Linked DNA regions of Homo sapiens: region 2 is linked to region 1. Evidence: fine-mapped expression QTL. A gene starts in region 1. The other region holds a variant in brackets. All regions are shown on one strand. Distances are between the middles of the regions. Region 1 holds the start of SMIM8 (small integral membrane protein 8). Region 2 overlaps ZNF292 (zinc finger protein 292).

Region 1 (2,924 bases):
ATGGCAATCATTAAAAAGTCAGGAAACAACAGGTGCTGGAGAGGCTGTGGAGAAACAGGAACACTTTTACACTGTTGGTGGCCTGTAAACCAGTACAACCATTGTGGAAGTCAGTGTGGCGATTCCTCAGGGATCTAGAACTAGAAATACCATTTGACCCAGCCATCCCATTACTGGGTATATACCCAAAGGACTATAAATCATGCTGCTGTAAAGACACAAGCACACGTATGTTTATTGCGGCATTATTCACAATAGCAAAGACCTGGAACCAACCCAAATGTCCAACAATGATAGACTGGATTAAGAAAATGTGGCACATATACACCATGTAATACTATGCAGCCATAAAAAATGATGAGTTCATGTCCTTTGTAGGGACATGGATGAAATTGGAAATCATCATTCTCAGTAAACTATCGCAAGAACAAAAAAGCAAACATCACATATTCTCACTCATAGGTGGGAATTGAACAATGGGAACACATGGACACAGGAAGGGGAACATCACACTCTGAGGTCTGTTGTGGGGTGGGGGGAGGGGGGAGGGATAGCATTGGGAGATATACCTAATGTTAGATGTCCAGTTGGTGGGTGCATCGCACCAGCATGGCACATGTATACATATGTAACTAACCTGCACATTGTGCACATGTACCCTAAAACTTATAATAATAACAAATAAATAAATAAACAAAACAAAACAAAAGTATCTTTCCACCTCTTGGATGTAGTACTGTCTCTGAAAAAAGGGGAAAGGCTTTGCTGGCGACAGCCTGAGTACTGACAATCTGAGTCTCATCTGGCTTCCCCCAATGTCATGGACTACTGTTCGGTGCCGAAGGCTTACTCAAAGACAGACGCATTGGAAGCCTCCAAAAGAAAACTTCATTCCGTTAAGTTCTACACATTGTGTTGCAGGGCTGAAAAAGCACGAGTGTCCGCACTATGACAAAAGAAAAGCGGCGTCTCCTCAAAACACCACCATGTTCCCCTATGAGTCTGGTGAGCCAAGACACTAAGAAACTGCAGGAAACGAGAGAGTTCTCGGGGTGGGGGTGTCCATGGATGAAGCACCGAACAAACTGGAGCCCGCAAGGTGAGTACGGGAAATGGGCTCTGTGGGGCCAGAGAGCTTCACCGACTTGGGGTGCGGGTACAGGGAGTCCACGGAGAGGCAAAGATTTGGGCTATCCGAGAGGACGCTCCCTCCCTGGGAGGGAGACCGGCAGGGCAGCTGGGAAGGGCAGAGACGGGAGCGTGATGGTGCGGCCGCCCTGGCCCCTCCAGGCCGGCGCCCAGCCACTCAACACCACCGAAGCCGCCGCTTACCTTTCGCGGGGTCACCTCCTCTCCTCGCCCGAGACGCCCCGCCCCGCTTCGCCGCCCCGCCTGCTAGAGAGAGCGGCGGAGGGCGCCCCGCCCGGCGCCACAGCGTCCCCTGTCTTCCGGAGGCTGCGGCGCAGCGGCGCGGGGCTGCGGGGACCCATCCAGTGCTAGCCTTTCCGGTTCTGAGGACCTCGCGCCCCTCCTTGGGGTCTGCGGGCTGAAGTGTGCAAGGGACGTTTTTGCTTTCTTCCCTTTTTGACCTTTAGTTTTCCACCTCCCAACTTCAAATTACGTTCCAGTTCGGTGTGTATGTTTGTATAAATAAAAGGAGACATCTCCTAGAAGTATGTTTATTTCATGAAAGTGGAAAGCATTCTGATTTGGGAAAGAAAGCTAGATCTGATTTCTTCCTACCCCTACTTTAGGGGAACAGTCATTTAAGTGTAGAGTTAATACTCTGCCATTACGTTAGGGCCTTGAGAGTCCAAGATGCAGGATGTATGCAGGTGCAGTTGAGACAAGAATAGATATAGGGATGCTGGTTTGCACATACTTTGCTGATGTTTAAGTTTGTTGGGATACACGTGAAAACTGATGTGGTTTGGCTCTGTGTCCCCACCCAAATCTCATATGGAATAATAGCCCCCTTGTGTTGAAGGAGGGGCCTGGTGAGAGGTCACTGAATCATGGGGCCGACTTCCCCCTTGCCATTCCCATGATGGAGTTCTCAGAAGATGTTTGTTTATAAGAGTGTAGCACTTCCCCCTTCACACTCTCTCTCTTTCTCTCTCTCTCCTGCACCACGGTAAGACGTGCTTGTTTCCTCTTCCACCATGATTGTAAGTTTCCTGAGGCCTCTGGAGCCATACCTCCTGTACAGCCTGTGGAACTGTGAGCTAATGAAACCTCTTTTCTTTATAAGTTACCCAGCCTCAGGTGGTTCTTTCTAGCAGTGTGAGAAGAGACTAATACAAAAACCAAAAATAAAATTCTAAGCACCACCATCACCAACCCACCCCTGAAAGGAATGGACCTCTGTCTTGGCCAAGGTAATCTCAAAAAAACCCTGAAAAATGAGTTCAGGCCCTGATGGGAAGGGGTGGGCGGTTGGATATGCCTCATTATACCTTCCTCCCGTTGGAGGTTAGACACAACTGACCAGCATTAACATTAAAACGGAGATCGTAAGACTGGTAAAATATACTGTAGCAATAAGAAAATTCCAACCTGACTCTGGAATAACATCACGTGACACATAGTGGGACCTGAAAGAAATAAAAATATGTTACCCCAAAATATATTTATTTGACTATTTTGAAATGGCCTCGCAAAGCTGTCTCTTGTTGGGGAAAACTTACATTCTATAGAAAATCTCTTTCCCTTACTAGATCTTTTTTTTTTTTTTTTTTGAGATGGAGTGTCGGAGTGTCACTCTGTCACCCAGGCTGGAGTGCAGTGGCATGATCTCGGCTCACTGCAACCTCCACCTCCTGGGTTCAAGCAATTCTCCTGCCTCATCCTCCCGAGTAGCTGGGACTACAGGTGTATGCCACCAAGCCTAGCTAATTTTTGCATTTTTAATAGAGACAGAGTTT
Region 2 (2,924 bases), 60 kb after region 1:
TAAATGTTGGCAAACTCTTCCCCATGACATGTAAAACAATTAGAAATGTCTAGTTATAAATTTTCTTAAGCTAATGAGCAAAAGAAAAGCCCCAATACATTGGCATTTTCACTTAACAGTGGCTCATAGTTACAATGATCAGAAATAAACCTACTTGCTACTGTGCTATATAGGGCAGTTTTGCCAAGTGCCCACCTTTAAGAGCTAGGTCAATTTCTAAGAAAACTGTATGGAAACATTCAGTTGTTAACAAAAATTTAATATTAAAATTACTCAGTTATTTAAATTATTGTTAATTTAGGAAAAAGAAAACCCATGTATTAATCACCCATAAAATAACTTTTATTTTAATAAATAACAGTGGGCTCACCAAAGGGCAGGGATTTTAACGTGTCAGGTTTTATGCTTATTGGTAGTAAGTCTTAAACAGGTGAAATGAACTATTCAATAAAACCCAAAAGGCCCTAAAAATAAAATACTTTAATAATAAAAATTAAAAAGAAATTTCCAAAAGAAAATAGTTCACTCCTTGACCATGCTTATTTATTCAGAGTACCAGCGATTTCAGTAAGTGCTTCATTTTTCCTGCAAATCTGATGTTGCACAGGGAATGTACACATTTTCATACCATCACAATATCATCAATATCTCAGGCCAATAATATTGTGAATGCAACTGTTTTATAACAAACACAAAATAAAAAAAAACAATGTTACTATTTACGGCAAACAGAAACAAAAGTAAATATTGCAAAGATGTTTTCTTATGTTTCTACTACTGATTTTAGTTGGACTTTAAATGAAGGTCATCAACTCTCCTGGAATAACCTCTACCTCTCGCTGTGAATCCACAGTATAAATATGGTGAATAAAGCTAAACTGTAAGAGCTAACTATATACTGAATAACCAAAATAATTATAACTAATACTGTTCTTGAAGACCAATCTAATGAAAAAAGTATCATTAGATATGGTGAGAAATACAGACAAATCTGTACAATCTAACATCTATAAACAGTAAAATCAAAACATCCAACTTCCTTATAGAAAGTGTTTTATCTATGTAATTATAAATGTTAAGGACTCTTGTATTTTATAAACACAAGATGGGCTCACTTTGATGATATCAATTTTAAGATTTATAAAAATGTTTAAAAAAATCTTTCCACAAAACTTTATACAGTTTAAAGCTATACACCAATCTATAAATCTCAGAAAATGGAAAACAAAACAAAACAAAAAATCTTTATAAGATCACATGTATAAAACAAGAAATGAAATGTGATTTTATTTAAGGCAATACTGGGCTACTTCACAAATCACCACCTCAAATATTTACACTGCTCCACACTACTAGTTTTCTATCACATTCACAAAGGATTTTTTTTTAATACCAAATGTTTAAAATCTTCAATGTAGTAAATTCTTTATTCACATTTCCATTGTATTTCATGGACTCATAGTAACTATATCCAATTAGAAGCAATGAAAAAAAAAAA[C/AC]TGTAGCTATAGGAAACTGCTAGAGAATCTGCTTTAATTTCACATGAATACCACCCCAAAATCCTGGATGGCAAATTTACAAAGCAGAGCAAAGTGTTGATATAATGTGCCTATTTTGTGAAAAGTAATCTTGATATCATCTTGTAAATAAATGTTTCATGTAAAAATCAATGAACTATGGCAGAGTTTCTGGTTTTAGTTCAAAAAGTTCTTAATTTAAAACAATAAAAGAACAATTTAAAAAACTTGATCGCTTAGTTAAAAATTAAAATTCCAAATATAAATGTGTCATTTAATAGTTTAGACTTACAGACTGCTGGTGGCAGCACATGATTTACAATAATAAATATATACAAAAAAGGTATCTACAAATAAAGAGTACTGTTATACATGAGCAGTGACCTGGTGAAACATACCAATCACACAGATAATTGTTTAGTTCATGAAAAGGGCAACTGGGTGATAGAAATTTGAGGTTTAGCTCACTATTTACAATAACTGAAGTACTGATTCTGTTCCTCAAGTCCCATAGGGATAAAAAAAAGTTTTACATGACAAATGTCATGTTTTTTTTTTCTTTTTTGTTTTTGGCCAGGTTAATTCATGTCAACAACAAAAAAATATAATGAAAGTTTCACAATTCTAGCATGCTTGATGGCTTCCTATTTAAAATAAAATGGTAAATGATGTATTTATACTACATTAATTATCAGTACTGACCTCTGCCTGTGGCTTTACCTATACTGATATCTTTCATAACAGACATATCTGGATCATTTGAATGTACTTCAAGTTTTTTCAGACTGACGGTAGGTTTCATTTCCTGAAGTTGCTTTAAGACAAGCTCAGTGCAATCTTTAAGATTCTTGTCTAAAACAATTTTTACATTATCACTGCACTGAAGCTGTGATGGATTGGCAAACTGTACAAACGTTTCGCTTTCTTTACAAGGACATACATGATTTCCACTAGTCACAGCAGTCTTATCAATATTTTTTCTTGAATTTGAATGGGATCCTTTTTTGTTTCCAGTATTCGGATGGTCTTTGTCAGTATTTTTCTTCTGCTTCACTGCAGACTCCTCAAGAAACTTCAGAAATGATACTTCAAATCCCATTGGCTTAAAAGAGCTCCAGTCAAAAGATGCAGGATGCTCCTCAATGGTTTGAATGGCAACAGCAGTTTCTTCTTCTTTACGCACGCTACTTAACTCAGCTGCTGATGCTGGTTCAGCTTTTTCAACTTTCCTTTTTTTATTTTGTGAGACATTTTTTTCCTTATTAACTCTCTTCAAATTACTTGCTTTTTGTCTTTCTGACTGGCAGAGGTTATCTTCCTGAAAATCATTACTTACATTTGAAGAAGTATTAGCTTGGGTCTCTACACTTGTGCTATCTTCATTTATTAATTTTGTAATAAACAATTC

The links.
Region 2: its variant is fine-mapped to the expression of SMIM8 in prefrontal cortex (BrainSeq, PIP 0.95).

What each region holds. Positions count from the first base shown.
Region 1 is chr6:87,321,041-87,323,964 of GRCh38, reverse strand. It overlaps SMIM8 (small integral membrane protein 8), which reads right to left and starts at 1,377. Exons shown (of 4, transcript NM_001042493.3): 1 at 1,333-1,377. It overlaps GJB7 (gap junction protein beta 7), which reads left to right. Exons shown (of 3, transcript NM_198568.3): 2 at 922-1,099. RefSeq lists a silencer at 1,266-1,555.
Region 2 is chr6:87,261,085-87,264,008 of GRCh38, reverse strand. ZNF292 (zinc finger protein 292) reads right to left here. Exons shown (of 8, transcript NM_015021.3): 8 at 1-2,924. The coding sequence ends at 2,208. Among named protein-coding and RNA genes, the nearest start is that of SMIM8, 60 kb to the left of the region's middle. The variant C/AC (reference allele first, on the strand shown) is at 1,499.